Linked DNA regions of Homo sapiens. The protein of the gene in region 1 purifies or fractionates together with the protein of each later gene. This does not show direct contact. Each region holds a gene or a part of one and is shown in the gene's direction. Other genes may lie near its edges. The genes, in order: CTSE, B3GLCT, MTMR9 and L1CAM.

Region 1 (8,982 bases):
TAGCTGATAGGATTGGTGAGAGATTTGAATGAACTAATGCTTGTAAGTCCCTTAGCTCAGAGCCTAGCACAGAGCTAATGCTTCCAAAGTATTCCTTGATATTGTCACCCAATCAAGCCTCTTCATTTTATAGGCAACAAAACTAGATTCAGAGAGAAGGGATTTATCTGCGATCATATGGCCAGTTAGTGGCAGAGCCAGGACTGGAGCCAGGCATCTCATCTCATCTCATCTCACCTGGTACAGACATCTTTCTACTGTACCACACACAGCATCGTGGATTTTCCCTCATTTCCTAACTTTAAGCAAAAGAGGTTGGGCCATTTCCCAGTTGGCCAGGTTTGTGCTGAACCAGCAATGTGTTGCAAGAGTCAGGCATCCTGGAGTGCATCCTGCGGTGCCGGCTCCCCTGTGAGCAGGAGCCAGCTCATGTCTGACAGTAACAGACTCTGTTCTAGGAGCTATCGAGCCCTGATAAAACTTATCCACAGAGCACTGAGCAACTGTCCTCTTATATTGTTATTATTTTATTTTGAGACATCTGTTGCCCTCTCAGGCTGGAGGGTAGTGGAGCAATCTGGGCTCACTGCAACCTCTGCCTCCCAGGTTCAAGAGATTCTCCCGCTTCAGCCTCCTGAGTAGCTGGGATTACAGGCACGTGCCACCATGCCTGGCTAATATTTGTATTTTTAGTAGAGACAAGGTTTCACTATGTTGGCCAGGCTGGTCTTGAACTCCTGACCTCAAGTGATCAGCCCACCTCAGCCTCCCAAATGTCCTCTTATTATTAATTTACTTTCTGGAAGCTGAAGCTCCAGAAAGAAGTTCACTAGATAGTGACACCACCACCAGCTTTCAAATGTTCTGGGAACAAAGTCTCTACATCCAGCCAGCCTCCAATCCACGTTCTTGAGCGTCTCTTTCTCTCCCCCCACCCCTCTCTCTCTCTCTCCAAAGACCCTCTCCTAATGCAGAGAGACCGGATCATTGACTATACTATGTGTCACTTTCCCCCACATCATACTATTTCACCTCAAATGCTCTTCTCTCTCCCTCTGCTCAAAGGACACACACAGACAACCACACATATGCCTAAGGTCTTTTGTTCTTTGGAAAGTGTTCAAATTGTCCACAGCAATATTTGGTTCTTGCTGGAAAAGGCCAGTAATCTACAGCCAGGGTAGGTTCAGTTCCTGGTGTCTCTGGAGAGGACAGATCCCATTAGCTCTGACAAACATCCCCAGTGTTCCTGCTCTTAACCTTTGTCAAATTTTCCAAAATCCAGCTAGACCCAGGGGCTCCTTGCAGGCAGTCGAGGCTGTGTCTGCTCCACTCAGTAGTCAGGTGGCCCACAGCTGCAAGGACCAGTCAGCTTTTTCTCAAGCCTGGGCCAGGCAAACTCTCTACATTTAGTAAACAGGGGCAAGAGGGATGCAGGGAGAGGTCTAAAAGATGGAAAAGGAGGGAGGGGTTATGGTTAGCCCCCTTTCAACAGTTCAGTGATAATGATGCTATAATTCTGTAGCAGAAAGTTTGCCCGCTTAGAAGTCAGGAGGGCTGAGTCCTAATCCTAGATCAGCCACTAAATGAACCATGTGCTCTTGGGCTGATCACTTTGCCTCTCTGCCTCAGTTTTCTCATTCTGCTATACAAGTGGGTTTGTCTTGAGAGTCTGTAAGAACCCTTCCAGCACTTCTGAAACACTGAAGTTTTTAGTGACAATCTTTAGTTCACATGACATGTTACAGTTTTTCAAGAACTTCCACATGCAAGCATCATTTGGAGCTACTGTGGGTTTGGTTCCAGACTACTGCAATAAAGTGAAAATTGCAATAAAGTCAATCACACAAGTTTTTTGGTTTCAAAATGCATGCAAAAGTTGTGTTTACCCTGTACTGTAGTCTATTAAGTGTGCAATAGCATTATGTCTAAAAACATCTTAATTAAAACATGCTTTATTGCTAAAAATGTTAACAATCATCTGAGCCTTCAGGGAGTCATAACCTTTTTGCTGGCGGAGGTCTTGCCTGGACATTAATGGCTGCTGACTGATCAAGGTGGTAGTTGCTCCAGGTTTGGGGTGGCCATGACAATTTCTTTCTTTCTTTCTTTCTTTTTTTTGAGATGGAGTTTCACTCTTGTTGCCCAGGCTGGAGTGCAGTGGCAGGATCTCGGCTCTCTGCAACCTCCGCCTCCCAGGTTCAATTAATACTCCTGCCTCAGCCTCCTGAGTAGCTGGCATTACAGGCATGCACCACCACACCCAGGTGTTTTGTATTTTTAGTAGAGATGGGGTTTCTCCATGTTGGTCAGGCTGGTCTCAAACTCCCGACCTCAGGTGATCTGCCCGCCTCGGCCTCCCAAAATACTGGGATTACAGGCACGAGCCACAGCGCCCAGTTCTTAAACTAAGAAAACAATGAAGTTTGCCACATAGATTGACTCTTCCTTTCTTGAAGATTTCCCTGTAGCATATGATGCTGTTTGATAGCATTTTACTCACAGTAGAACTTCTTTCAAAACTGGAGTAATCTTCTCAAACCCTACTACTGCTATCAACCAAGTTAATGCAATATTCATAATCTTTTGTTGGCATTTCAACAGTGTTCACAGCATCTTCACCAGGAATACATTCCATCTCAAGAAACCACATCCTTTACTCATCCATAAGAAGCAACTTCTCATCCATCCAAGTTTGATCATGAGGTTGCAGCAATTCAGTCACACCTTCAGGCTCCACTTCTAGTTCTCTTGCTATTCCCACCACATCTACAGTTACTTTCTCCACTGAAGTCTTGAACCCCTTAAAGTTATCCATGAGGATTGGAATCAACTTCTTCCAAACTCCTTTTAATTTTATAGTTTGATCTCCCATGAATCATGAATAATCATAATGGCATCTAGAATGGTAAATCCTTTCCGGAAGATTTCCATTTACTTTGCCCAGATCCATCAGAATCACTATCTATGGTGGCTATAGCTTTACAAAATGCATTTCTTAAATAATGAGACTTGAAAGTCAAAATTATTCCTTGATCCAGGGGCTGCAGAATGAATATTGGGTTAGCAGGCATAAAAACATTTATCTCCTTATAAATCTCCATCAGAGCTCTTTGGCAATGAGTTGCATTGTCAATGAGCAGTAAAATTTTGAAAAGAATTTTTTTTTTTCTGAGCAGTAGGTCTCAACAGCAAGCTTAAAATATCCAGTAAACCATGCTGTAAACCAATGTACTGTCATCCAGGGCTATGTTGTTCCACTGATACAGCACAAACAAACTCTATTTAGCATAGTTTTTTAGGGCCCTAGGATTTTCAGAATGGGCAAATGAGCATTGGCTTCAACTTAAAGTCACCAGCTGCATTATCCCCTAACAAAAGATTCAGCCTGTTCTTTGAAGATTTGAATCCAGGCATTGACTTCTCTCTAGTATGAAAGTCCTAGATGGTATCTTCTTCCAGTATGAGGCTATTTTGTCTATACTAAAAATCTGTTGTTCATTGTAGCCACCTTCATCAATGATCTTAGCTAGATCTTCTGGATAACTTGCTGCAGCTTCTGCTTTGGGACTTTCTGCTTCACCTTGCAGAAATCTCCATAGGCTTCACGTTTTCTTCTGCAGCTTCCTCACCTCTCTCTGCCTTCATAGAACTGAAGAGTGTTAGGGCCTTGCTCTGGATTTGGCTTTGACTTAAGGGAGTGTTGTCACTGCTTTGATCTTCTATCCAGACCAATAACACTTTCTCCATATCAGCAAGAAAACTATTTTGCTTTCTTATCATTTGTGTGTTCCCTGTAATATCACCTTCAATTTCCCTTAAGAACTTTTTCTTTGCATTCATGACTTGGGTAACTGTTTGGTGTAAGAGGTCTAGCTTTCAGCCCTTCTTGGCTTTCAACATGGCTTCCTCACTAGGCTTAATAATTTCTAGCTTTGAATTTAAAATGAGGAACATGCAAATCTTCCTCTCACTTAAACACTTAGAGGTCACTGTAGAATTATTAATTGGCCTAATTTCAATATTGTTGTGTCTCAGGCAACAGGAAGGCCCGAGGGGGAGAGAAAGAGAGGGAGAGAGAGAGATGGGGGAATGACCAGTTAGTAGAGCAATGGAGCAATCAGAACACACAATTACACTTATTAAATTCTCTGTCTTACACGGGTGCAGTTTGTGGTACCCCAAAACAATTACAACAGTAACATCAAAGATCACTGAGTACAGATCACCAAAACAGATAAAATAATCATGAAAAACTTTGAAATATTGCAAGAATTACCAAAATGTGGCACAGAGACACAAAATGAACACACAGTATTGGAAAAATGGTGCTGATAGACTTGCTTGACACAGGTTTGCCACAAACCTTCAATTAAAAAAAAAAAGCAGTATCTGCAAAGTGCAGTAAAGCAGAGTGCAGTACAACAAGTATATCTGTACCTTATTTTGTTTGTTTAATCCTCCTTAAAAACCCATTGATGTAGGTAAGGTATTTGGCAGATGACAAAACTAAGGTATGTGGTGAATAAGCAGTTACGGGCAAAACATGGCAGAGTTTACTGCCAAAATGAATGATCTCCACTTCTAGCCACTTCTGACTCAAGCTGCCCTTCTAGGTTTAGACCACTCTCCCCAGTGAAAGATCAACAAGACGGGCTCCTGGGAAATGCCAAAGAGGCTTTGTTGCCTTGGGTTCAGGGGTCAAAGGTCTAGGCTGTTCCTTAAGTCTTTTTGATGTCTTTTTTTAACATTTTTGGACCCAAGGGTGGGTTTGGCTTAGCTCCATACTCCACGTTTGCTTGCCATTTGAACTTCAGAGATGAAAGGCAGATCCCATAGCACTTAAGAGATTTTCCAGAACACTAGCTGGTCAGGGCAGAGCTAAACCTAAACGCAGGCCATCTACTTCCTACTGCTGAGCTAGTGCCCTCTGGAAGCATTGGCATATGGTGGTGGCCTCTGCTGCCCTGGCTAACTTGAGTCAGGGTCAGGGTCTTCCTACCTGTAACCCCTTCATCCCCACCCCAGGCACTGAAGCCCCACCATCTGTTTATGAGGCGGGTGGCCACAGAGATAGGCTGATGGTGAGGGGGTTTCACACACTGCGGTAACTAAGGCCTGAGCCCCACCCACTCTCCACCCCTGCGCTTAGTCCCACTTGACAGATAGAAGATCCTATTGTCCCTGAGCACTGTTAAGGGCTGAACTTTGTCCTCCAAAATCCATGTTGATGTCCTAACACCTAGTACCTCAGAACGTGACTGTATTTGGAGATAGGGTCTTTAAAGAGGTATTAAGGGTAAACGCAGTCATTAGGGTGGGCCCTACTCCAATATGACTAGCGTCCTTATAAGAAGAGGAAATGTGGATGTGGACACAGCCACACGCTGAGGGAAGACCCATGTGAAGACACAGAGAGAAGGCAGCCATCTGCAAGCCAAGGAGAGAGGCCTCCGAAGCAACCAAGTCTGCCAACACCTTGATCTTGGACTTCCAGCCTCCAGAATAGTGAGAAAATAAATTTCTGTTGTTTAAGCCCCCTGTACTTTGTCATGGCCGCTTTAGTAGACTCATGCGGGCACTTGCTGTAGACGCTGACCCCCTTGACCCTCCCTCGCTGCCCCTGCATTCTCCTCCACACACCCCTGAGCCCCAGCCCCAGATTCATCAAGTCCTTAGAGTCAGGAGAGTGGGCTCCATAAATCTGCAGCTACATTTTCCCATTTCAGGGCCTTTGAGGAGTGCTGGTTTGTGCTTCAAAGTGGGCCAGGGAAGGATAAACTGCCTTTGGAGCATTTGAGAGATTGAGGAGAGAACAGGAATCACCCAGAAAACAGACTGACGAATATTTTGAGTTAGAATCCTGCCACCCATGACAAGTCAGCTCCCACCCCTCCAGAGTCTCCAGCTAGAGCACTTGCAGTAAGAGTTCAGTGGGCCTTTCCAGGCAGCCAGGCATGTGCTGCCCTCCGGATTCATTAACAGGGTTTCTTGGGGTCAGAGGAGGTGCCAAAGCCCTGAGAGAAGCCAAGCCCCAGAGGACTCCCAAGTTCTCCCCGCAGACTCATATTCCTCTTGTAGGTGGGAAAGGGACGGAGAGGTGCAGGGGGAACGCCCTGTTCCACATGCCGTATTTACTCTGGGCATGGCTAATGACTCCAGGGCCTTATCATTCGGCCCTCAGACTGGGCTGGGCAGGTCTGAGAGTTAGGGAAAGTCCGTTCCCACTGCCCTCGGGGAGAGAAGAAAGGAGGGGGCAAGGGAGAAGCTGCTGGTCGGACTCACAATGAAAACGCTCCTTCTTTTGCTGCTGGTGCTCCTGGAGCTGGGAGAGGCCCAAGGATCCCTTCACAGGTGAGAAGACGTCCCCGCACTGTGTTCAGCTGGGTAGTCCCATGCCCTGCAACTCAGGGCTGCTCTGGGGTAGGAAAGCTGATGGGGAGGTGAAGAGGAGGAGAAGCTGAGGGCTTGCGTCAATGCATGGAAGAGACTCATCCAGTGACCGCCTGTGTATGGCCTTAATCTCCAGTCCTCAACAAGTCATCCTCCTGCCTCCACCTCCACGGAGGTGCCTTCCCAAGTCCCAGGGGTCTTCTTGTGTTGCAAAAGAGCAGGAACCTGCAGTTGTGGTTTGTAGCTCAAAGCGCCCCAGGACTTCCCCAGGGGACTGACCATCACTGTCCCCAAGAGTTTTTCTGTCCCTTTAAATCAGCCCTTCGTGATGTTCATGTAAAACTGTAGACCGCCCCACATCTCCCATTTTCCTAGATCTCAAAGACCTCAGCTCCAGGAGGGGAGCCATTTCCACTCTAAGATTCTAAGACTCTATAGGGCAGAGATGAGGCCGGGCAGGCTGAGTGGCAGAGAGGACGCTGATCCCACCTGTATCCTGCGTGCTGTCTTGCAGATCCCCCCCTCCCACCCCATCTTCTCTAGTTGGCCCCTGAGAAAATGGGACGAGAATGGGGGGAAGAGGGAGGCAGAAGTACATCTCCTGCTTACATGGGGGTTTGTCTCCAGGGTGCCCCTCAGGAGGCATCCGTCCCTCAAGAAGAAGCTGCGGGCACGGAGCCAGCTCTCTGAGTTCTGGAAATCCCATAATTTGGACATGATCCAGTTCACCGAGTCCTGCTCAATGGACCAGAGTGCCAAGGAACCCCTCATCAACTACTTGGATGTGAGGCCTCCTGGGGTCAGGGCTGGGGAGAGGTGGGAGCGGGAGGAAGGCCCAGCATTAGGGCATGGCCAGTGCCACATCAGTAGCACCGAAGGCCATTGTGGATTTCTTCACTTGGATGATGATCCATGGGGACTGATTCCCTGGGTCCCCATGGAGTTGGCTAAGCAGGCCCCCATGTACCCAAATGTCAGAGTTCTCTGCAGAAGGAAAGGGCTGGGAGTGAAAGCATCATCCCACACTGAAGGCCCCTGCTTCTGCTCTCAGCTGGGCAGCTTACTGGCTGTGTACCCTTAGGCAAGTTACTTAACCTCTCCCAGCCCCAGTTCCCTGGTCTGTAAAACAGATGGTTCTTCCTCCACTGCCTCTCCTACAATGTATTTATAAGAATCAGGTTAGTGCAAGTAAAATCAAATGAAGTAGCCAGAGGCTTGGTTTGATTTCCTCCTTCATGGCCATTTCTCTGCTCCTTTTACCTTTTATTTTCCAGCGTTGCCACTTCCTAGGCTCTGTAAACTCCAGTCTGTATTACCCCAGGCTCTGGCCCCTGGGAGCTTTCCCCTGGCTTCCTGGTGAGCACCCTTGTCCCTCCCCACCACCCACACCCTCTTTCCTTCTCACTCTTCCTTGCAGATGGAATACTTCGGCACTATCTCCATTGGCTCCCCACCACAGAACTTCACTGTCATCTTCGACACTGGCTCCTCCAACCTCTGGGTCCCCTCTGTGTACTGCACTAGCCCAGCCTGCAGTAAGTGGGGCCAGGAGCACCAGCAGAGAATGTCTGGGGGCTAGTCCTGGGAGGCCAAGCCTGGTACTCTGGGGAAGGGGGGCTTAGGTTCCAGAAACTGGCCATCCCTGCCACACCAGCTTCCACTCTCCATCTTTGAGTCAGCCGTGGAACTGCTTATAGCAGAGATAGAGCAAAGCCAAGGAAGAACTAAAATGTGGCTGCTGTCCAAGAGAGTAACTTTCATACTGATCAGAATTAATAGAAAGAAAGCCATTGAAAAGAGAAATCTTTGACATAATGACTCACTTCCTTTGGAACACCCAAAGGAATGTAGGGGAAGTTTAATTTAATTGGTTATTTCTGAGCAGGGAGGTGAGTCGGGTTCTAGTGTAGATAGTCTGCTTGTTTCAAGGAGGCTTGGTAGCCTTATCTCCTGGTGCACACAGGTGGGGCTGGTGGGGCACAATGGCATGGGTGGGTCCATTTGTCCAGAGGTAACTCAGAAGTTTCAGTGAGGATTGGAAAAGAAGAGCTACAGAAAGATGTCTTGTTCGATACAGGACAAGTCCCAGAGACAGAATGTCTCTGGAAACCCCAAGGCTAGAGATGTCCATCGGTTGGGAGAAAAGTTGGGAGTAATTTCCTGGGGCAATTGTTTATCCCTGAGTTTCTTTTGAAGCCAACCTCTGACCCACAATGGGTGGCAGGGACTGTGGCTGGCGCCTGATAAATGACACTTATCTTGGTGTGCCTCATGAGGTCATTGTGGACAATCAGGTTTGCTCAGGGATAGCTATTTGGTCCCCAGTTAGGCCACATCTGTAGCTAGAGGGAAATGTAGTTGTTCATTAGGGAGGGGCATCACCAGGCTTCTAGGGGCCCCCACTCAGTGTTGAGAGCTGAGGGAAGAGACCCTGCCGCTGTGGGGCTGGGTGGCATTAGGGCAGGGATGCAGCCAGTGAGCCGATGGCATAAGCAAGAGCAGTGCACTTCTTTCCAGAGACGCACAGCAGGTTCCAGCCTTCCCAGTCCAGCACATACAGCCAGCCAGGTCAATCTTTCTCCATTCAGT
Region 2 (8,186 bases), on another chromosome or scaffold:
ACTTTTCTGAAATTGAAAATTAGGCAGTCTTTTGCATTTTCTAATTTTAGTGCGTATTTTAATTTTTTTCCCCATGAAAAGACTGTCAATTTCACCAAGGATGTGGTATTTATGTAGGAGAGATTTCTAAACCAACTGTCATTTTCATGGGATTGGAACTACTGAAGAAGTTCATTTATATATTTTATGTGATAATATGATACATACAAATTATATTTTACAGGGGAAGATGTTTTCCAAATAAAATAATATTATAATTTGAGATTATAGTATTGTCTAAGACATCAACATCAATTAAAATCCAGCTATAATCAATTATATCTTAAAAATACATTAACTATAAACCTTCATATTTGCCTAAAATGGCCACACTAAATTCCAAATCCTATTAAATCAGTCTATATGAATACATTTGTTATGCAACAAGTCCTAAGATACTGTGAAGAATCAGTATAGCAGTTAAAATAAAATTTTTATTTATCATAAATTTAACCTAAATTTAATATCCTTTTACTTTTTTCATAATATGGAAGGGTTTTGTGGGATTATTTTGACAAATACCTTCTTTAAATAGGTGTTGGGGAAATGAACTATACCGCTTTTTGTTTTGTTTCTTTTACAGCAAGCAGGAACTGTTTGAATTGATTTAATTGATCTTGAAGCTACACTTGGAGTAGTGATTGTTTTCACAATATTAATGTTAAGGATGGTGTTGCTGGTACTTTTTCTTTGAAACACATTTTTCAGGTCACAGTGAAGCAGTAAAATTAGGGACACTCCCTGTTGTATTTTTTATATTCTACAGAAATGAAAAAAAAAATAGTTTGTTAATTTTGATTTAGTAATTTTGAATAATCTAGTTTACTGCTTTCTTATTTTGCATAAGTTTGAGATACTCTTTTTAGATATTCATGAAATCCTTTTCTGTTTGAATTTTGAGTCAAAAGTCTTTAAAAATTACAAAATCTTAAAAGCCTATTAGGAGCATTAGAAACAAACCTTCCAAAGCCAGATGCATTGATTTACTGCTGTTAATTTGAATCTGGGATCATTAAAGCATGAGGCCTAAAATGTATCATGAAGTTTTCATATTTGGGTTTCTGTGGTAAGCCGTTTTTCAACTTGGATATGTTTGTTTGAAAAGATAGTCTAAGGCAACAGGATTTCAGTGACTTTGAAGTCCATTTTGCATGACTTCATGTAGCCTGCCAAGCCACCACTGGGCTCTGCCCCTCATTTTAGAAGCCTAGTCCAGCCATCAGTTGGCCCAAAGAGTTATCCAGTAATACCAGTTACAAGGATAACATCACACTAACTGCTTCTAACTGCTAATATTTCTTACATTTTCTGGTGTGTTTTTCACATATGTTCTATTACCTAGTTTCATGTTGACACTTCCTCGTGATATGATAATTATTGTTATTCACTTGTTGTGGAAAAAGCTGAGTATGGAATGATACACAACTGGCTCAGTTTCTTGTATCCTATTGAGTAGCAGAGCCAAAGACTTGGGTTTTCTGGCTCCTAAGTCCCACATTTTTTTCTACCACAGCACAGCTATACTGTAATCTCCTTGGATGTATTACAAACTCCATACTTGATAAATAGTCTTTGCTATTCATGTTGATGTCCTGCTATGCTCAAGGTCAGTTTTGACTTGGCCAGAAGCTGTGAAAGTAGGCTTTCCATTTTTAGTAGCAATGGGGATGGCAAGGAATTGAAACCCACACAGGATCTAAAATACAAATCGAGCTGAGAATTTAGACTGCCACTCCTATCTAAGCATATCACTGCTATAGTCAAGCAGAATACATGGTCTGGGGTGTTGGATTTTTTTTTCATTTTCTTTTCCCTGTGCACTCTATTAGTGGGGGAAACCAGCCCCCAATATTCAACGTGAGTCCTTTTCTATTTTCCCTAAGTGTTGGCCAGTCTGAGAAATAAAGGGAAGGAGTACAAAAGAGAGAAATTTTAAAGCTGGGTGTCCGGGGGAGACATCACATGTTGGCAGGTTCTGTGATGCCCCCTGAGCCGTAAAACCAGCAAGTTTTTATTAGTGATTTTCAAAAGGGGAGGGAGTGTACGAATAGGGTGTGGGTCACAGAGATCACTTGCTTCACAAGGTAATAAAATAGCACAAGGCAAATGGAGGCAGGGCGAGATCACAGGACCAGGGCGAAATTAAAATTGCTAATGAAGTTTCAGGCACACATTGTCATTGATAATATCTTATCAGGGGACAGGGTTTGAGAGCAGACAACCAGTCTGACCAAAATTTATTACGCAGGAATTTCCTCATACTAATAAACCTGGGAGCGCTACGGGAGACTGGGGCTTATTTCATCCCTTATCAACGACCATAAAAGACAGACATTTCCAAAGCGGCCATTTCAGAGACCGTCCCTTGGGAACGCATTCTCTTTCTCAGGGATGTTCCTTGCTAAGAAAAAGAATTCAGCAATATTTCTCCTATTTGCTTTTGAGAGAAGTGAAATATGGCTCTGTTCTGCCCAGCCTACAGGCAGACAGACTTTAAGGGTATCTCCCTTGTTCCCTGAATATCGCTGTTATCCTGTTCTTTTTTCAAGGTGCCCAGATTTCATATTGTTTAAACAATTTGTGCAGTTAACGCAATCATCACAGGGTCCTGAGGTGACATTTCATCCTCAGCTTATGAAGATGACGGGATTAAGAGATTAAAGTAAAGACAGGCATAGGAAATCACAAGAGTATTGATTGGGGAAGTGATAAGTGTCCATGAAATCTTTACAATTTATGTTCAGAGATTGCAGTAAAGACAGGCATAAGAAATTATAAAAGTTTTAATTTGGGGAACTAATAAATGTCCATGAAATCTTTACAATTTATGTTCTCCTGCCATGGCTTCAGCCGGTCCCTCCGTTTGGGGTCCCTGACTTCCCGCAACACTCTGTGGTAGAAATACTTCAGTAACAAAGGCCAAATGATGAAGGAAAAAAATCTAGAGAAACTGTACTTGTGTTTGCCAAGTTGAGAGTGGGGTGTACTGTTAATTGTGGGCACAGTGTCCCCTGGCACTGGGTGGTGATGGCCCCCACTCCTGCTTCATTATATGTTGGTTACCTTCTGGGATGAGAAGGAGAGATGGAACATGTTCTGCTCAAGGCCGTAGTCACAGCAAGGGAAAATATAGATTGCATTTATTTTTTATACTCTCATGGAAGAATTGATAATAAAACCAAGTTTCACAATGAAAAGAAATATTTTAAATATTGTACTTTCTTGGCTTAACAATAACACATTTATGTAATTGCTTTTGTCTGGATTCTGACTTAAGTGAAACAGCATTCTTAGAACACAACAAGCAAAAATATACTCTGTCTTTTGGCTCAAGGAAGTAATACATATTGACATCATTGAAACAGCAGCACCCTCTGAGAGGCAAGCATTTAGTAGGATTTTAAAGAAACTTGAGAACTGTTACATAAGGTGATGAATTGGGCATAGCATGTAAAATTATATTTAAGCAAGGAAATGATCTCTGGTGTTTTAATATTCAACTTGATTGCTTCCTCTTGGGTTCTGTGTTTCCCACTGTGTGACCTGAGCTGTCAGAAAACCTTAAGAATTTTCTTTGCATCATTTTTCCATGCAGTTTGTGTACATGTCTCATGTACCTCGTGGCAGCCACTGGTTTTGTTCATCAAATGGTGGGTTGTGGGATGCTCTCCTGCAGTCTCCCTCTAATTAAAGAGGTTAAATTGCCGTTTGCTCAGCCTTTAGTTCCTTTCCACAGCTTCCTAGGCTCTTAAAAATTAGCACTATATTCCTTTCAGATTAAAAAAAAACAAAAACAAAAACCTGTTTGCTGTCTTTACTGCTGTGGTCTTGTCTAGAGGCAAATCTGAACAAACTGATTGAAAGGGGTGTTTGGTGGCTGGTGTTCTCTTTGACTAAAGAGGCTTACATGTACTGTGGTACAGTCTGCTTACTTAAAAGGTGAGGCTTGAATTAAAATACAGCCAGATAGAAGGCCAGACTCTAATCAAATGAGGTGATTAGATCAATGAATGAAGAGAGGAGAGGAGTCAGGTGTTGCCTTTCCCTGGCTGTTGAATAGCTGATGTTCCAGATTGCCCTACAGTGTTGTGTTAGGGCATCCAGGAGGGATACTTTTCAGGCTTAGGTACACCTCAGTCTTTAAAATGAGGAATTAGGACACATTCATGTGTGTGTCCCTAATCTGCTCCTGAGAAGAGAAGTGCAATCAGGGTCTTATTTTGTGACCACTGACTTGCACACTGAGACAAAAGGGCCATCTGCAAGCTGAAAATAGTGGATTCCTTAAAATAAAAACTATTCACATTTGATGGTGTGGTAGTTTTAATAAAATGTTCAAGTGTCAAGTTCATTTTCATTTATAATCTGAGACAGTTTTATAAGTCACCTCCCTGGGGGTAAAAATGCATGTTCTGTCCTCATAGTGAGACACATCTTCTGCTTAGAGTCTAGAAAGCTCTAAGAAAGATTTATGCCATCTGTGCAGCTGGCATTTTTATAGTAAAATTTTTTTTACTTTGCTCCAAGTTTAAGTTATCTCATGACAAACTTTCTTGAAAGAGGCATTCACTATTATTATAGGAAGTATACTTCTTTATTGAAAAGGAGATAATGTATCAGGTAACTTATTAAAGTATTTTCTCAAAGTTTAGTATCTTTAGGAATACAGTGCCTCAATACAATATAAAATATTTTGTAAATAATAGAATGAATTCATTTTAGAATTTAAATGATGCTAATAAAATAGACCATTATTCTAAAAGTTTAACTAATTTAGAATCAACCCTGGTTGAAAATAAAGCCTTAAGCTGTTTTTTTGGAAGACTTTAAATCCTTTATGGCTAAGAGATGACAGACAGGGCCGAGTGCGGTGGCTCATGCCTGTAATCCCAGCACTTTGGGAGGCCGAGGCGGGCGGATCACGAGGTCAGGAAATCAAGACCATCCTGGCTAACACGGTGAAACCCTGTCTCTACTAAAAAATACAAAAAAAATTAGCCGGGCGTGGTGGCGGGCGCCTGTAGTCCCAGCTACTCAGGAGGCTGAAGCAGGAGCATGGTGTGAACCCAGGAGGCAGAGCTTGCAGTGAGCTGAGATCACACCACTGCACTCCAGCCTGGGCAACAGAGCGAGAGAGTGAGACTCTGTCTCAAAAAAAAAAAAAAAAATGACAGATGCATGGAGGTTATATTGACAAGGGGAGAGATGTACAAACTGTTGAATGCTTTAGGTATTGTAGAATCATAATATCTTAGTATATCTAAATGGTTGGCTTGTTTTAAAATGATTAATCAAAGGCTGAATTGCCTTTATGAATAAAACCTTCCTTTAACAAGCTTCCACAAATAATCCTAGGCCTTTTATTGAAATGCCTACAAAATTCAGTCCTCATTCAACTGTTTATTGAGTGTCTACTATGTCCTAGGCACTGTGCCAGGTGTTGGGAAATGAGTCATACACACACTAATTCTTACCTTTAGTGTAATTTCTATTTTACCTGTTTCAAAGTAAAAGAGAAAGCAAAAGTGCTAACTCACCCTTGATTTTGATTTTAATTTTATTTAACTCAGTTAATTGAGAAGAAACACCCGTGTTCTTTAATAAACCTATTAGAGCGAAAAAGGACTGAAAGCCTAAAGGCTGAGGAAATTGAAAGCAAAATTTGCACAGCCTGCAGGACCCTTGCTGGGGACTGAGGAAAGTTCTTGACCTTTCCTCACAGCTTCTTCCAGCATTATGCAATGGAGGATATTTTACCCAACAGTGTGAACTTTTAGTGGCTGCAAGCTGCAGGGAGCCCTTTCTGGGGTAAGTTCTCTTGCTTATTGTATGCAAAGCAAACTGCCACAGCAGTGCCAAGGTTAACATTTTTGTTGTGCTGAAATTTGGAAGTAGAACAGAGTGAAATTTTTTAACATTTCTTTTTTCCTTTTTTTGTCCGCCAGTAGCCCTATTATTTAGTACATCTTTGACCATTTTGACATGTAGAAACCTTTAGAACTATCTGCTTTTTTATGGTTGCAGAAAAATTATATTTTAATATATGAAATTAATATTTAACTGGTAATTTGGTAATTTTAGCAGATGTGCAGAACTCAGTTTTTTTAAAAAAAAAGCCAGTGAAAGAGATTATAAAATGATGCACTTCTGTATTTTCTATATAAGGGCTGTCTGAGCTGGACTCAGAATTTGCTTACTTATTAGCTAAACACTTAAATTTTACATTGGAACATCAGTTTTTGTATATATTTCTATTAGAGTTGGGAACAGGGGAAAGATACATGATCTGATAAAGTTTCTCAAAAGTTAAGTGAAGATTTGGTTCATCAGAGTTTTGACAGGATATAAAATCTAAATGTTTTTTCTATTGAAAAAACAAGAAACCACTTTTTAAAATTCAGAGATGCATAGGCAGTAATTTGTTTTTTAAGTATAGAAGAAAAGAATTACTTGGTCAGGTGAATTAATATCAAGTAGTGGTAAGTCTATATGTCAGGTATGCAGACAGAGCTATCTTTGAGCCTCCAAAGCCAAAATACAGAAAACCAGGACAGCTTTCTGTTGTGTTTATTGTGTTAAAACAATTTAGCTGCTAATGATAGAGTTTTAAAGCCTGCAGTAGTTTTGAATGTTAGTACTTCCACATTTTTCAAAAGTACAACATCGTAATATCAGTCATCATATGCAGTGATTCTCATTTGGCAAGGTCATGCCCTTTGTAGGGTTGGGTAGTTCTGTTAGAATCTTTGGGTGGGGACATGCATAGTTTGCAAAGGTCTTCTCATGCTCCACGGTAAGAGGGATGGATTTTCTCTTACCGTGCTCCGTGGTAAAAGAAAAATTAGTTAACATTAATGTAAACACAATAGCATAATCAAACCAGAAAATTTATCATTATATGGAAGTAAGTGCATTCATCACCAGGAATGAGAAATGCTTTACTCTAGAGAATGTTGAAAATGCTTCAAGAAGAGGGTTTTAGTCAACAACGTTGGCATTTCTCAGGGTTGGAAGCAAGCAACTCTTGGAACACCTGAAGAACAACCAGTAATGTTTCTCTTCCTTTGTAGATGATTATACTGCCATTTTGAATTTTTAAGCTTCCTTGTGTAACTGTGCCAGTGATTGTCACCTCTGTAATTTTTTCAGTACCTATTGTTAAGCAGACTTGGGAGAGCCAGGCAAGTCTCATTGAATACTATAGTGACTATACTGAAAATTCCATTCCTACTGTGGATTTGGGAATTCCTAATACAGATAGAGGTGAGTCATAATTCTTACTACTCTCCTTATTAAACATTGCCATTCTGTAAATACAGTAAATTAGGTTAGGATAAAAATGAAATGTTTTATAAGTGCTATAATTTTTGCCTCATATTAGTTTTTTCCCTTCTCTCAGATACTGATTGGTTCTTTCAAACTAAGGGCTTTATAGTACGAAGTGTTGCAAGTTTTTAGTAGCTTATATCCTATAATTGAGCACATGATAGTTACAGCAGAATTTAACAATAGATTTTTCATACCTTCATAATTCTTTGCGACCATGATGGGGTGTTTATTATATTCCCACATAAAGCTTCTCTCCTTGTCAGTCTTATAGTCTAGTTCACATATTATATTACCCGTGAGTACCACCTAATCACATTCTACACTAGTTATATGTAGAATAAACTGTATTCTATATGTTAAGATTTTAATTAGTAAATTGTTGGAAATAAACCTGCTTTTCTCTTCAAATTGCAGGCTTTCTAATTAAAAACACTTTTTAGGACATACAGAGTGGAATGGTAGACATTGGAGACTCCAAAAGGTGGGAGAGTAGAAGAGGGGCGAGGGATGAGAAATTACCCACTGAGTACGATAGACACTCTTCGGGTGATGGCTTCACCAAAAGCCCAGACTTCACCACTGTACAATATGTCGATGTTACAAAACTGCACTTGTACCTCTTAAATCTATAAAAATTTTAAAAAATTGTGTCAAAAAATGGAAGTGAAAATTTGGCCACCTCATCTTCAGATATTCTTTATTCATCTTAAGTTTTATCCAGTGTTCCTGCCACCCTTTGTTCTTTAGTTTTTTTGTTCCCCATGCCCTTTTATGAGTAAAAAAAAAAAAAAAAAAAAAAAAAAGTAGCAAACTGATTA
Region 3 (4,173 bases), on another chromosome or scaffold:
TAATATATAATATATAACATTATATATTTTATTATATATGTTATATATTATATTATAATATATAACATATATAATACGTATTATATATAACATAATATGTATTATATATTATATAATATGTGTTATATATCATACGTATTATATACTATGTATTATATATGTATTATATAATATATATTACATATAATACATAGTATATAATACGTATGATATATAATATATATTATATAATACGTATTATATAATATATATTATATTTCACCTATATAATATATATAATTATTCACCTAATTATATTAAATAATTATTCACCTAAATATTCACCTAATTATTCAGCGAATAGGTGAATAATTATTTATTCACCTATTCACCTAATACATGTAATTATTATATATAATATATTAATAATTATAATATATAATAATAATAATTATATTATAATAATTATATATTATAATATAGTATAATATAGCATATAATATATATTATAATATGTATATATAATATATATACATAAATATATAATATATTTATATATATATAATATATATATAATGATGTCAGGTAATAAGGGCCAGGAAGGAAAGTAACGGAAGATGAGAGGATAAAGAGCACTGGGAGGCAGTTTCCTTAGAAAGGATTTCAGAGAAGGCAGGTGACATCTGACTACAGACCGGAATGAAATGAGGAAGCTAGAACTGTGAGTGTCTGGGGGAAGAGCATTGCAGCCAGAGGGAACAGCGAATACAAAGACTTGAGATGGGGAACATGCTTGGCATGTGCAGAGAAGAGCGAAGAGGCCAGTGTGGCTGCAGGGCAGGGAACAGAGAGTACAGGAAGTTGATGGTAGAGACTGGCTGGAGGGATAAGCAGTGGTCAGACCGTGGAGGGCCTGCAGGCCACAGTAATGGTTTTCATGGGAGCCCTTGGAGAGGTGAAAGCTAGGAAGCAGCAGCTGATAGATGTTTCAGAAGACAATTCTGGCTGCTGGCAGAAAATAAACTGTAGGGGGGCAAGACTGGAAGCAGCAGGCCCAGCTTGGAGAGTAGAGTAGTTCACATAAAAGATGATGGTAGGCCGGGCACGGTGGCTCACGCCTGTAATCCCAGCACTCTGGGAGGCCGAGGCGGGCAGATCACCTGAGGTCAGGAGTTCGACACAGCCTGGCCAGTATGGTGAAACCTCATCTCTACTGAAAATACAAAAAATAGCTGGGTTTGGTGGTGCATGTCTCTGATCCCAGCTACTCAGGAGGCTGAGGCAGGAGAATCACTTCACCCTGGGAGGCCGAGGTTGCAGTAAACTGAGATTGCACCACTGAACTCCACCCTGGGGTGACAGAGTGAGTCTCTGTCTCAAAACAAACAAACAAACAAACAAAAAACAGTAGTGTAGTCACAAGGAATCTGATTTGGGATGTGTTTTTGAAAGTGGAGCTGCCTTGCCTTGCTGGTGAATTGTAAATGAGGTGAGAAAGTCATTAAGGGTAACTCCTTCAGTTCTGCCTCTTACTAGACAAGTGCCTTTGGGCAAACTACTTAACCTCGTAGAAACTTAAGTTTAAATAATGCTTCACAAGTCTGTGGAATACTTTCATATATATCGCTTACATCATTTTATTTGATCCTTTCAACATGCAAGGTTGTATACAAGTTTTACAGTTATACCTGGTTTTTTTTTTAATGGACCTCAGAAAATTGAGTTACTACTACTCAGTTGATGACTCATCATTTTCATGATTGATTCCTTAAAAGGTTTCCTCTGTTGTTGATTTTCTTCCTCCCTAATTTTCACTCCCGTTTCCTGCCTCATCCACAATCCCTGTAGGCAACCACGTTAGTTGTTGCTATAAAATAGATAGCACTATTGTGTATGGGTGTGCGCACACATGCATGTGTGAGTTTAATTTGCCTAACTGGGATTATGTTGTAGATCTTGTTCTGCTTCTTAATATGGTGACACAATACTGTTTCAAGATCTCTTCATATTGCTGTGTGTACAACCATTTCACTGCTTCTGACAGCATAGGATTCCAAAGTATCTAAAAGAGCTTCCTTAACAGACCTTTTAGGTAACTTCCAACTCCCTGCTATCACAAACAACTCTGGTAAACATACTCATTCATGTCCCTTTATATAGTCTTGTGCCATAATTGCTCTGAGACTGCCCCTAGGATGGGATGGCGCCATAAAGTAGGTGCGTATCTCATTTCACAAACTAATTGCTTTCCAGGATGACAATTGCACATTGCCTTCCCATGATGGTGCAGGAGAGGGTACCTCGTCTCCACTTTCTTACCAACATTTGGTATTGTCTTTCTAATTTTTCCAGTCTGAAGATTGTGAAATAGTTATTGCTTTGTTTTAATTTGAATTTCATTAATTATTAGTGTTTAATTATCTTTGTATATGCTTGTGAGCAGTATACTTAAAATTTTTTTTTTTCCTTTTTGTGAATTGCCTAATTTCTGTGGTCTACTTTTAAACATTGGGTTTATTGTCCTTCTCATGTTGATTTGCATGGGTACCTTGTATACTCTGTGGGTGTTCATTCTCCATTTAGGCATTACGAATGTTTTCTAGTGTGTCACCCATCTGTTGTTTTTTTCTGTGGTGCCCTTTGTTGAACAGAAATCTTTACTTTTAATGCAGAACTTGCCAATGTTTTGCTTTATGGTGTGTGGCTTGTCTTAAGAACTCCTTCCCTGTCCCCAAATCACCAGGATGTTCTCCTACATTTTCTTCCATAATAGCTTCATAGTTTTACTGTTCATTTTTAGGTCTTTAATTTGGATTCTATCTTTGTTTCAAGTGTGATAAGAACCTATTTTTCTCCATAGAGCAAGCCAGTTTTCTTAATCCCATCACGTGACAACCCAACCTTGGCTGGTTTATGTCAAGTTATCCTATATATACGGGTCTGTTTCTGAGCTCTCTGTCATAATCCATTGGTTCATTAATCTGCTCTTTTGTCATCATCATATTCTCTTTCCTTCTGTGGCTTTGTGATGTGTCCAAAAATCGGATAGTGCTAGTTGCCCCGCTTTCGTTTTTTTTTTTTTTTTTTAAAGTTGACAACTATGTTTCGACCTTTATGTTTCCATGCAATTTTGGAAAACTTGCTATGTTCATGGGATTTTTAAAAGTCTTTAATAATAATTGAAGACTCAAAGGCAGTTGCAAAAATTGCACATAGAGGTTTTAGAATCGTCCACTCAGCTTCCCCTAATGTTGACCTGTTTTATAACTGTAGTGTAATCAAAATGAGGACAAAATTAGGACATTGACATTGGTGCAGTACTATTAACTAGACCACAGACTTTATACAATTTTCATAGGATTTTAAAAAAATGAATTGTTTTGGATTTATAGATTAATTGGAGTCAAATTGACATCTTGACATCCATGAACAATGTTACATTATTTATTCAGATCTTCCTTTAAGTCCCTTAGTGGAACTTTAAGATGGTGTATATGCTAGGTGCTGTACTAGGAGCTGAGGATATAGAAATTAATCAAACATGCCTTCTACCTGAAAAAACTAAGACCATTATAAGAAATAAACATATAAACTAGAAAGTTTAATAAAGTATTTTAAATGCTGTGATAGGGATGTATACAGGGCATGGATGGGACAATAAGGACAAAATGATAAAATAGAACTGAATCTGACAATTGATGTGAATCATAGGAGTTTTGTGGAGCTCTTATGTTTTTAAAACATATTTTTCTTGGCCCACTGTTCTATAAGTAACTGACTAGAAACATTGAATAAATGAATGGAGAATACCTTAATAGTTTATAGCATATTTATTCTGACATAAAGTAACAATTATTTTTAACTCCTCTAGTCATTCATTATACTTTATAGCAACTACATAAAACCTGCCAGACTAACAAAACAAAATTCACCTTACAAAATGAGTTAGTATGACAAGCATAGATGATATGGAAATTTACAAGAGAATAACCGTATGTCTTGTACATTTTTTTTGTTTTTTTACTGACAGTTTGGTTGCTGTGTGTCTTTCACTTCCAGCTGAAGCAGAATGACAGTGATTTTTAAAACAGTTTTATTGAGGTACAGTCGACGTATTACACACTATATATATTTGAAGTGTAAACTTTGATGTGTGTTGATATATGTACACACCCTGAAACTGTCACCATAAGT
Region 4 (8,186 bases), on another chromosome or scaffold:
GGTGATCACTGAGGTAAAGCGACAGGATGGTGAGGGGGCTTTGCCACCTGCCAGCCGCTCTCCTGGAAGACTTGGGTTGAGAGGAGGGTCCCCATTAAGGGTGGTGGGGGTGTGCGCTGGGGGCCCTGCTGGGTGCCTTCTGCCCCTGCGAGGTCTCCTGTTCGCTTGTGCAGGTGACGTACTGGAGGGAGGGCAGTCAGAGGAAGCACAGCAAGAGACATATCCACAAAGACCATGTGGTGGTGCCCGCCAACACCACCAGTGTCATCCTCAGTGGCTTGCGGCCCTATAGCTCCTACCACCTGGAGGTGCAGGCCTTTAACGGGCGAGGATCGGGGCCCGCCAGCGAGTTCACCTTCAGCACCCCAGAGGGAGGTGAGTCCTGCACCCCACGCCTCATCCCCTGCCCTCCTCCCCAGACCTGGGCGAGGACCTACCTGCCACTCGGTTCTGTGCCCTGCAGTGCCTGGCCACCCCGAGGCGTTGCACCTGGAGTGCCAGTCGAACACCAGCCTGCTGCTGCGCTGGCAGCCCCCACTCAGCCACAACGGCGTGCTCACCGGCTACGTGCTCTCCTACCACCCCCGTGCGTGCGCCGCCCCAGCAGGGAAGGGAGGTGGAGGGGCCACGGGGAGGGGGCAGAGCTGCAGCCACAGCCAACCCCTGTCTGTCCCCACAGTGGATGAGGGGGGCAAGGGGCAACTGTCCTTCAACCTTCGGGACCCCGAACTTCGGACACACAACCTGACCGATCTCAGCCCCCACCTGCGGTACCGCTTCCAGCTTCAGGCCACCACCAAAGAGGGCCCTGGTGAAGCCATCGTACGGGAAGGAGGCACTATGGCCTTGTCTGGTAAGCTGGAGGAATGACCTGCCAACAGGGAGGCCCCGGCCAGCCGGGTCCAGGAGGGAGGGCCTTAGACTTCCTGGCAGCTGCCACACTCTCCTCGTTCCCCTGCATCCCCCCAGGGATCTCAGATTTTGGCAACATCTCAGCCACAGCGGGTGAAAACTACAGTGTCGTCTCCTGGGTCCCCAAGGAGGGCCAGTGCAACTTCAGGTTCCATATCTTGTTCAAAGCCTTGGGAGGTAAGCGTGAAAGGGGGCCTTGGGGCGTGGTGGGGAAGGGGGCTCTGGGCCAGAGGGGTTGCCTGGCACTCCGACTCACCCCTGCTGCCACCCTCTCTCCCTGGCAGAAGAGAAGGGTGGGGCTTCCCTTTCGCCACAGTATGTCAGCTACAACCAGAGCTCCTACACGCAGTGGGACCTGCAGCCTGACACTGACTACGAGATCCACTTGTTTAAGGAGAGGATGTTCCGGCACCAAATGGCTGTGAAGACCAATGGCACAGGTGAGGCGCCGGGGGCCCGCCATCACCTGCCAGGGAAGCATGGGGGCTGCACAATTCATGTCCTTCTGTCCCCTGAATGGCCACTACTGCCCAGGCTCCCTCCACGGCTCCTGTCTGCTTCTCCTCCCAGAATCTGGGTGTCCCCGAATCAGCCCCCTTTCATACCCTTTCCGCAGATGCCCTTTTCCCTGTCCCTGTCACTCCTTAGCCCCCCAGAGGGCCCCAACTTTAAGAGCATACTTCAGGGCCTCAGGTCGGGTTCTGGCTTGGGCGGCAGCACGGGGGGCTGGTGTCTCACCCTCAGGCCGCGTGAGGCTCCCTCCTGCTGGCTTCGCCACTGAGGGCTGGTTCATCGGCTTTGTGAGTGCCATCATCCTCCTGCTCCTCGTCCTGCTCATCCTCTGCTTCATCAAGCGCAGCAAGGGCGGCAAATACTCAGGTAGCCTCTGAGCCCCACGTGACGGGGGTGGAGCCGAGGGCAGAGAGGAGCACCTCGCCCCTTCCACCCTTCTGCAAGGCCTCCTGGATTCCCCGAGCTCCCCACAAGATGACAGGCGCATGGTGGGGGCAGGCAGGGGGATCATCCTCCCAGGCCGGGGTTGGGGCAACAGGCAAGTGGTGGCTGGACCGCAGGGGGTGAGCGGTTTCTTTCAAGGCCTCTTGCCTCTGGGCGCTGTTGAGACAGAGTGCTGGGGGTGCGGGGCGTAGAGGGGCCTGGAGCCCCGGGTCAGGCTGGGGCGGGAGAAGAAGCTGTCCCTCTCTGTGTCTCCAGTGAAGGATAAGGAGGACACCCAGGTGGACTCTGAGGCCCGACCGATGAAAGATGAGACCTTCGGCGAGTACAGGTGAGCCGGGGCAGGAGTGGGTGCTGGCACTCAGCTCCACCCTGGCCTTCACATCTCACCCCCTCTCTCTCTTCTCTGTGCTGCCGGGTGACTTCAGGTCCCTGGAGAGGTAAGGCAGGGGCGGTGGGGAGGGGCCAACAGCAAGGTCTCCCTATAGACAATGTGCGCCTGGTGTGCCATTGTCCCCTGGCTGCCGGGGCTCTGACAGGACTCTCACTTCCCAGCCCCCAGGCCCGGCAGCTCCTCATTTCAGGGAGAGGCCAACACGCCCCAGCCCCTCCTCTCCACACAGATACCTTCACTGCTCCCCTCTCCCCAAGGGAGGCCCCAGACAGCTTCCCAGACAGGAACCAGGCCCCATAATCCCCTGGCCGAGCGCACATTTTCTCCCTCACAGTCCCCAGGATCTGGGGAATGCCCAAAGATGACAGCTCCAGACCTGCCTGCCAGGGTGGCCAGAGCTGCTCTTTCTGAGCGCATTCTAAACAAATGGAAGGCAGGCGGGCGTCTGCCTCACCCCCAGCCAGGCTCCTGCAGGGGCTCGGCAGTGCTCTCACTCGCACCTGCCCTGTGCCTCTGCAGTGACAACGAGGAGAAGGCCTTTGGCAGCAGCCAGCCATCGCTCAACGGGGACATCAAGCCCCTGGGCAGTGACGACAGCCTGGCCGATTATGGGGGCAGCGTGGATGTTCAGTTCAACGAGGATGGTTCGTTCATTGGCCAGTACAGTGGCAAGAAGGAGAAGGAGGCGGCAGGGGGCAATGACAGCTCAGGGGCCACTTCCCCCATCAACCCTGCCGTGGCCCTAGAATAGTGGAGTCCAGGACAGGAGATGCTGTGCCCCTGGCCTTGGGATCCAGGCCCCTCCCTCTCCAGCAGGCCCATGGGAGGCTGGAGTTGGGGCAGAGGAGAACTTGCTGCCTCGGATCCCCTTCCTACCACCCGGTCCCCACTTTATTGCCAAAACCCAGCTGCACCCCTTCCTGGGCACACGCTGCTCTGCCCCAGCTTGGGCAGATCTCCCACATGCCAGGGGCCTTTGGGTGCTGTTTTGCCAGCCCATTTGGGCAGAGAGGCTGTGGTTTGGGGGAGAAGAAGTAGGGGTGGCCCGAAAGGGTCTCCGAAATGCTGTCTTTCTTGCTCCCTGACTGGGGGCAGACATGGTGGGGTCTCCTCAGGACCAGGGTTGGCACCTTCCCCCTCCCCCAGCCACTCCCCAGCCAGCCTGGCTGGGACTGGGAACAGAACTCGGTGTCCCCACCATCTGCTGTCTTTTCTTTGCCATCTCTGCTCCAACCGGGATGGGAGCCGGGCAAACTGGCCGCGGGGGCAGGGGAGGCCATCTGGAGAGCCCAGAGTCCCCCCACTCCCAGCATCGCACTCTGGCAGCACCGCCTCTTCCCGCCGCCCAGCCCACCCCATGGCCGGCTTTCAGGAGCTCCATACACACGCTGCCTTCGGTACCCACCACACAACATCCAAGTGGCCTCCGTCACTACCTGGCTGCGGGGCGGGCACACCTCCTCCCACTGCCCACTGGCCGGCCTCTTCCAGCCGCCCCCACCCCCCAGGACCCCTTAGCAGCCCTGCCCTCCCTATCGTCTGAACAGTTGTCTTCCTCAGCCTCCTCCCGCCCCCACCTTGGGAATGTAAATACACCGTGACTTTGAAAGTTTGTACCCCTGTCCTTCCCTTTACGCCACTAGTGTGTAGGCAGATGTCTGAGTCCCTAGGTGGTTTCTAGGATTGATAGCAATTAGCTTTGATGAACCCATCCCAGGAAAAATAAAAACAGACAAAAAAAAAGGAAAGATTGGTTCTCCCAGCACTGCTCAGCAGCCACAGCCTCCCTGTATGCCTGTGCTTGGTCTACTGATAAGCCCTCTACAAAAAAACAAAAGTATATATATATATGTACATAATATCAGAATTATAACAGGCAAATAAAACCTGAAAATCAAGAGCACCTTTTGTTATTTCGCGGAACACTTACTTCCCCTGTCCACGTCACACTGTGGGAGGTGCTAGGAGCGACCTGCCAGGCGGGCCCGGGTGTGGCCCAGCCACACAGTCCTGATGCTTCCCTGCCCCTTCCCAGAGCCCGGGCCTTCCACCCACCCTGCCAGGCCTGGCTGTTGGCTGCCTTGGGTGTTGCTGTCACATTGTTGCTGGGGCTCAGGATCCTCGCCTCTGCTGGCCTCCTGAGACCAAGCTTAGCTGTCACCATGGCCGGGCCCTTCACTGCTCAAACATGAGAGTAGAGTGTGGCCAGCGGCAGGAGCCTCTTCCCCTGTCTCAAGGGACACAGCTCCATGGCTCAGTGGAAGACTCATGATGTGCCCCGGTGGCATCGTTCTCTCTGGGGTACCCAGCCCTCTAAACCAGTACAAAGCACCTTATTTATTTATTTTTTGAGACAGGGTCTCACTCTGTCTCCCAGGCTGAAGTGCAGTGGCGTGATCAGGAGCAGGTGAGACCATCTACAGCCATAGATGGCAGGACAGGGCTTACCTCTGTAGCTGGGGATTGGTTGCCTGGAAGCACAAAGGCATTCTCTGTGGTGATGCAAATGTTCTTTAGTTTGGTCCGAGTCGTGGTTGCATGTGTGGATAGGCAGGTAAAAAAATCAGGTTGCAGCGACCTGAGATTGTACCAGTGCACTCCAGCCTGGGCGACAGAGCGAGACAAAGAAAGAAAAAGAAAGAAAGAAAGAAAGAGAGAGAGAGAGAGAGAGAGAGAGAGAGAGAGGGAGGGAGGGAGGGAGGGAAAGAGAGAAAGAAAGAAAGAGAGAGAGAGACAGAGAGAGAGAGGGAGGGAGGGAGGGAAAGAGAAAGAAAGAAAGAAGAAAGAAAGAGAAAGACAAAGCAAGAAAGCAAGCAAGAAAGAAAGAAAGGAAGGGAGGGAGGGAGAGAAAGAAAAGGAAAGAAAGAGAAAGAAAGAAAGAAAAAAGAAAGAAAGAAAGAAAGAAAGAAAGAAAGAAAGAAAGAAAGAAAGAAAGAAAGAAAGAAAACCCAGCACAGGTGAGCCCTCCACTTCCCGGGCTCAAGAAATCCTCTGGCTTCAGCCTCTCAAGTAGCTAGGACCACTGGAGCACGCCACCACGCCTGGCTAATCTTTAAATTATTGTTGTAGAGATGGAGTCTCCCTATGTTGCTCAGGCTGGTTTCGAACTCCTGGGCTCAAGCAATTCTCCCACCTCGGCCTCCCGATAGTGCTGGCATTACAGGCGTGAGCCACCACACCCAGCCCAGGACTAAGCACCTTAGATTTATGACCACAAGCCTCAAGTGGACCCAGGCAGAGCCAGCCTTCCTTGGGAATTCTAGAGTTTCCTCCCTGGTTCTCCAAGGCCTCACACCTTCCCCTCAGCCCCCAGGCCCTGCACTTTCAAGGTGAGAACTTTGTTTCATGTTTCACTGAGCAAGTTGAGAGCATCTGACGAGAATTTCTTTCCTTGAGTTCCCATCATCAAATCTGTCCCCTCCCCAGCCCTAGCCCCCTCAGGTGAACACTTCCCACCATGTGCAGTGGTCTCTGCCACCCCTGAGACCCCCTCTCTCCTCCTGTTTTCTGCACCTGTAATTTTTCTCTCTCCCTGTGGGGTCAGGCCCAGCAGCATACCAACATGCCCTTGGAGCTTCTATCACCGGAAGCTCCCGCTCCTGCCTCCGCATGCCCCCTGGCTCTTGCCCCGTTTCACTGCTCCTGTTTACAGCAAAACCCCTCAAGACTCCTCTACACTCATTGTCCCCCTTGATCCCCACCTGTAACAGCGTCCACTTATTGCCCTCCAATATCTGTTTTTCTGTTCTTCCATAACACTAGATTTGTGGCTTGGGGACATGGCAGCTCAGCTGAAGACCCATTTCCCAGCCTCTATGCACCCAGTAGGGTGGTGGGGCATGAGTGCACCCATACCTGCAGGGCAAACCTGTGCTGGCGCCTTTCTTCCTTCCTTCCTTCCCTTCCTTCCTTCCTTCCCTTCCTTCCTTCCTTCCTTCCTTCCTTCCTTCCTTCCTTTCTTTCTTTCTTTCTTTTTTTCTTTTTTGAGATGGAGTCTCGCTCGATCACCCAGGCTAGAGTGCAGTGGCATGATCTTGGCTCACGGCACCCTCTGCCTCCCAGGTTCAAGTGATTCTCCTGCCTCAGCCTCCAGAGTAGCTGGGACCACAGGCGCCCGCCACCACACCCAGCTTATTTTTGTATTTTTAGTAGAGACAGGGTTTTGCCACGTTGGCCAGGCTGGTCTCGAACTACTGATCTCAGGTGATCTGCCCGCCTTGGCATCCGAGACTGCTGGGATTACAGGCGTGAGCCACCACGCATGGCCTTGTGCCAGCCACTTTCTGTCTCCTTACAGCTGAAAGGCAAATGTGATCTGTGATCATGGGGAGAGCTACCTTGTCGCACCAAAGGGAAGTCGCACGTTGAGGATGGCGGAACAGCAACAAAGGCAGCCCGAGGGCCTGAGCACCTGGAGCTGCCACATCGGCCCTGGGCTGCTTTCCTGGGTTTTTAAAAAATTAAGGCATTTTGCTTTTTAGAGCAATTTTAGGTTTGCAGAAAAATTGAGCGGAAAGTAAGGAGTTCCCACAGACCCCGTCACTCCCCTTACGCCTCCCCATGATGAACATTTCGAGTCAGTGTAGTACGTTTGTTACAATTGGTGAGCCACAGTGAGAAGCTCGCATGAACTAAAGCCCATAGCTGACATCGGGGTTCACTCTGGTGTTGTCCATTTATGGGTTTGGACAAAGGTATAATGACATGGATCCACCCTTACAGTATCATACAGAGTAACTCCACTGCCCTAAAAATCCGTGAAACAAGTCCTTATTGAGGATTACTGTGCAGAAAATCAAGTGCACGCCTGGTTTTTTCACCTGCCTATCCACACATGCAGCCACAACTTGGACCAACTAAAGAACATTTGCATCACCACAGAGAATGCTTTTGTGCCTCCAGGCAGCCAATCCCTGGCTGCAGATCTAAGCCCTGTCCTGCCGTCTATGGCTGTAGATGGTCTCGCCTGCTCCTGACGGGTATGGAAATGGAAGCACACGCTCTGGAGCCCTTTGTGCCGGCTTCTTTCTGGAATCACTTCCATGAGACTCATCCAGGTTGACGTCTGTGTCCCTTCTTCCCTCTGTGATGCTGACTAGTAGCCATTGTATGCACGCATGCACCGCGACTCACTTACCCATTCCCCCGTTGATGGACGTGTGGGTTGTTTCCAATGGTAGCCATCATGGATAAAGTGGGCATATGCAGTCCTTTCTCTGAGATCCGTGCCCTAGAAGGAGCAGTGCTGGCTTGTGGAGTGGGCGTGCCACCCCCTTTGCTGTCCTCTGCTTGGTGATGCTCCTGCTTTACCAGCGCCTCCCTCCTAGGCTCTGCTAGCTGGGGGCGTTTAAGGGAGCCCACAAGACTGGAGGAGGAAGAAGGGACCTGCTCCTTCCTGGGCGCACCATCTAACAAGGCTTCTTCACCCTTGCAGCAAGTGCTTCATTTCCGTGGCACTGCCTGAAGCCAATTTTCAGATCTCTCAACACTTGCAAGACCAGCTTCATTGCATCCCACCTCTGAGACACCACCACCGGACACCCAGTGCCCTATGCTCCAAAATCTGAGTACTAGGCCATCCCCTGAGCTCAGAGACCCCAGCATCAGCCAGACCCCTGCTCCTTAGAGGTCTGGATCCCAGCCCCACAAGTCCCTCTACTGAGCTCACTCCTCCACAACTAGCTAGGCCACGCCCCCACCTCAGACCTCAGAGACCCAGCTTCAGCTCTGTGGGCCTCTCTCTAACCAACTTCCTTCCTTCCTTCCTTCCCTCCCTTTCTTCCCCTTCCTTTGTTCCTTCCTTCCTTCCTTTCTTCCCTTCCTTCCTTTTCTTCTTTCTTTCTCTTTCTTTCTTTTTCTTTCTTTCTGTTTTCTTTCTTCTTTCTTTTTTCTTCTTTCTTTCTCTTTTCTTCTTCCTTTCTCTCTC

The links.
Region 2: the proteins of CTSE (region 1) and B3GLCT purify together in Homo sapiens (affinity purification with mass spectrometry; 2 studies listed by BioGRID and IntAct, with this or other methods). This does not show direct contact.
Region 3: the proteins of CTSE (region 1) and MTMR9 purify together in Homo sapiens (affinity purification with mass spectrometry; one large-scale study listed by BioGRID and IntAct). This does not show direct contact.
Region 4: the proteins of CTSE (region 1) and L1CAM purify together in Homo sapiens (affinity purification with mass spectrometry; one large-scale study listed by BioGRID and IntAct). This does not show direct contact.

What each region holds. Positions count from the first base shown.
Region 1 is NC_000001.11:206,021,096-206,030,077, reverse strand, and holds the start of CTSE (cathepsin E isoform a preproprotein), read left to right. Parts: upstream 1-6,182; 5' UTR 6,183-6,286; coding exon 6,287-6,354; intron 6,355-7,020; coding exon 7,021-7,177; intron 7,178-7,810; coding exon 7,811-7,928; intron 7,929-8,910; coding exon 8,911-8,982. UniProt on the Homo sapiens protein: May have a role in immune function. Probably involved in the processing of antigenic peptides during MHC class II-mediated antigen presentation.
Region 2 is NC_000013.11:31,277,460-31,285,645, forward strand, and holds part of B3GLCT (beta-1,3-glucosyltransferase precursor), read left to right. Parts: intron 1-5,761; coding exon of another isoform or gene 5,762-5,808; exon of another isoform or gene 5,809-5,847; intron 5,848-7,188; coding exon 7,189-7,302; intron 7,303-8,186. UniProt on the Homo sapiens protein: O-glucosyltransferase that transfers glucose toward fucose with a beta-1,3 linkage. Specifically glucosylates O-linked fucosylglycan on TSP type-1 domains of proteins, thereby contributing to elongation of O-fucosylglycan.
Region 3 is NC_000008.11:11,287,816-11,291,988, forward strand, and holds part of MTMR9 (myotubularin-related protein 9), read left to right. Parts: intron 1-4,173. UniProt on the Homo sapiens protein: Acts as an adapter for myotubularin-related phosphatases. Increases lipid phosphatase MTMR6 catalytic activity, specifically towards phosphatidylinositol 3,5-bisphosphate and MTMR6 binding affinity for phosphorylated phosphatidylinositols.
Region 4 is NC_000023.11:153,857,488-153,865,673, reverse strand, and holds the end of L1CAM (neural cell adhesion molecule L1 isoform 1 precursor), read left to right. Parts: intron 1-173; coding exon 174-375; intron 376-463; coding exon 464-586; intron 587-679; coding exon 680-853; intron 854-969; coding exon 970-1,089; intron 1,090-1,196; coding exon 1,197-1,352; intron 1,353-1,656; coding exon 1,657-1,791; intron 1,792-2,124; coding exon 2,125-2,197; intron 2,198-2,294; coding exon 2,295-2,306; intron 2,307-2,779; coding exon 2,780-3,011; 3' UTR 3,012-4,158; downstream 4,159-8,186. UniProt on the Homo sapiens protein: Neural cell adhesion molecule involved in the dynamics of cell adhesion and in the generation of transmembrane signals at tyrosine kinase receptors.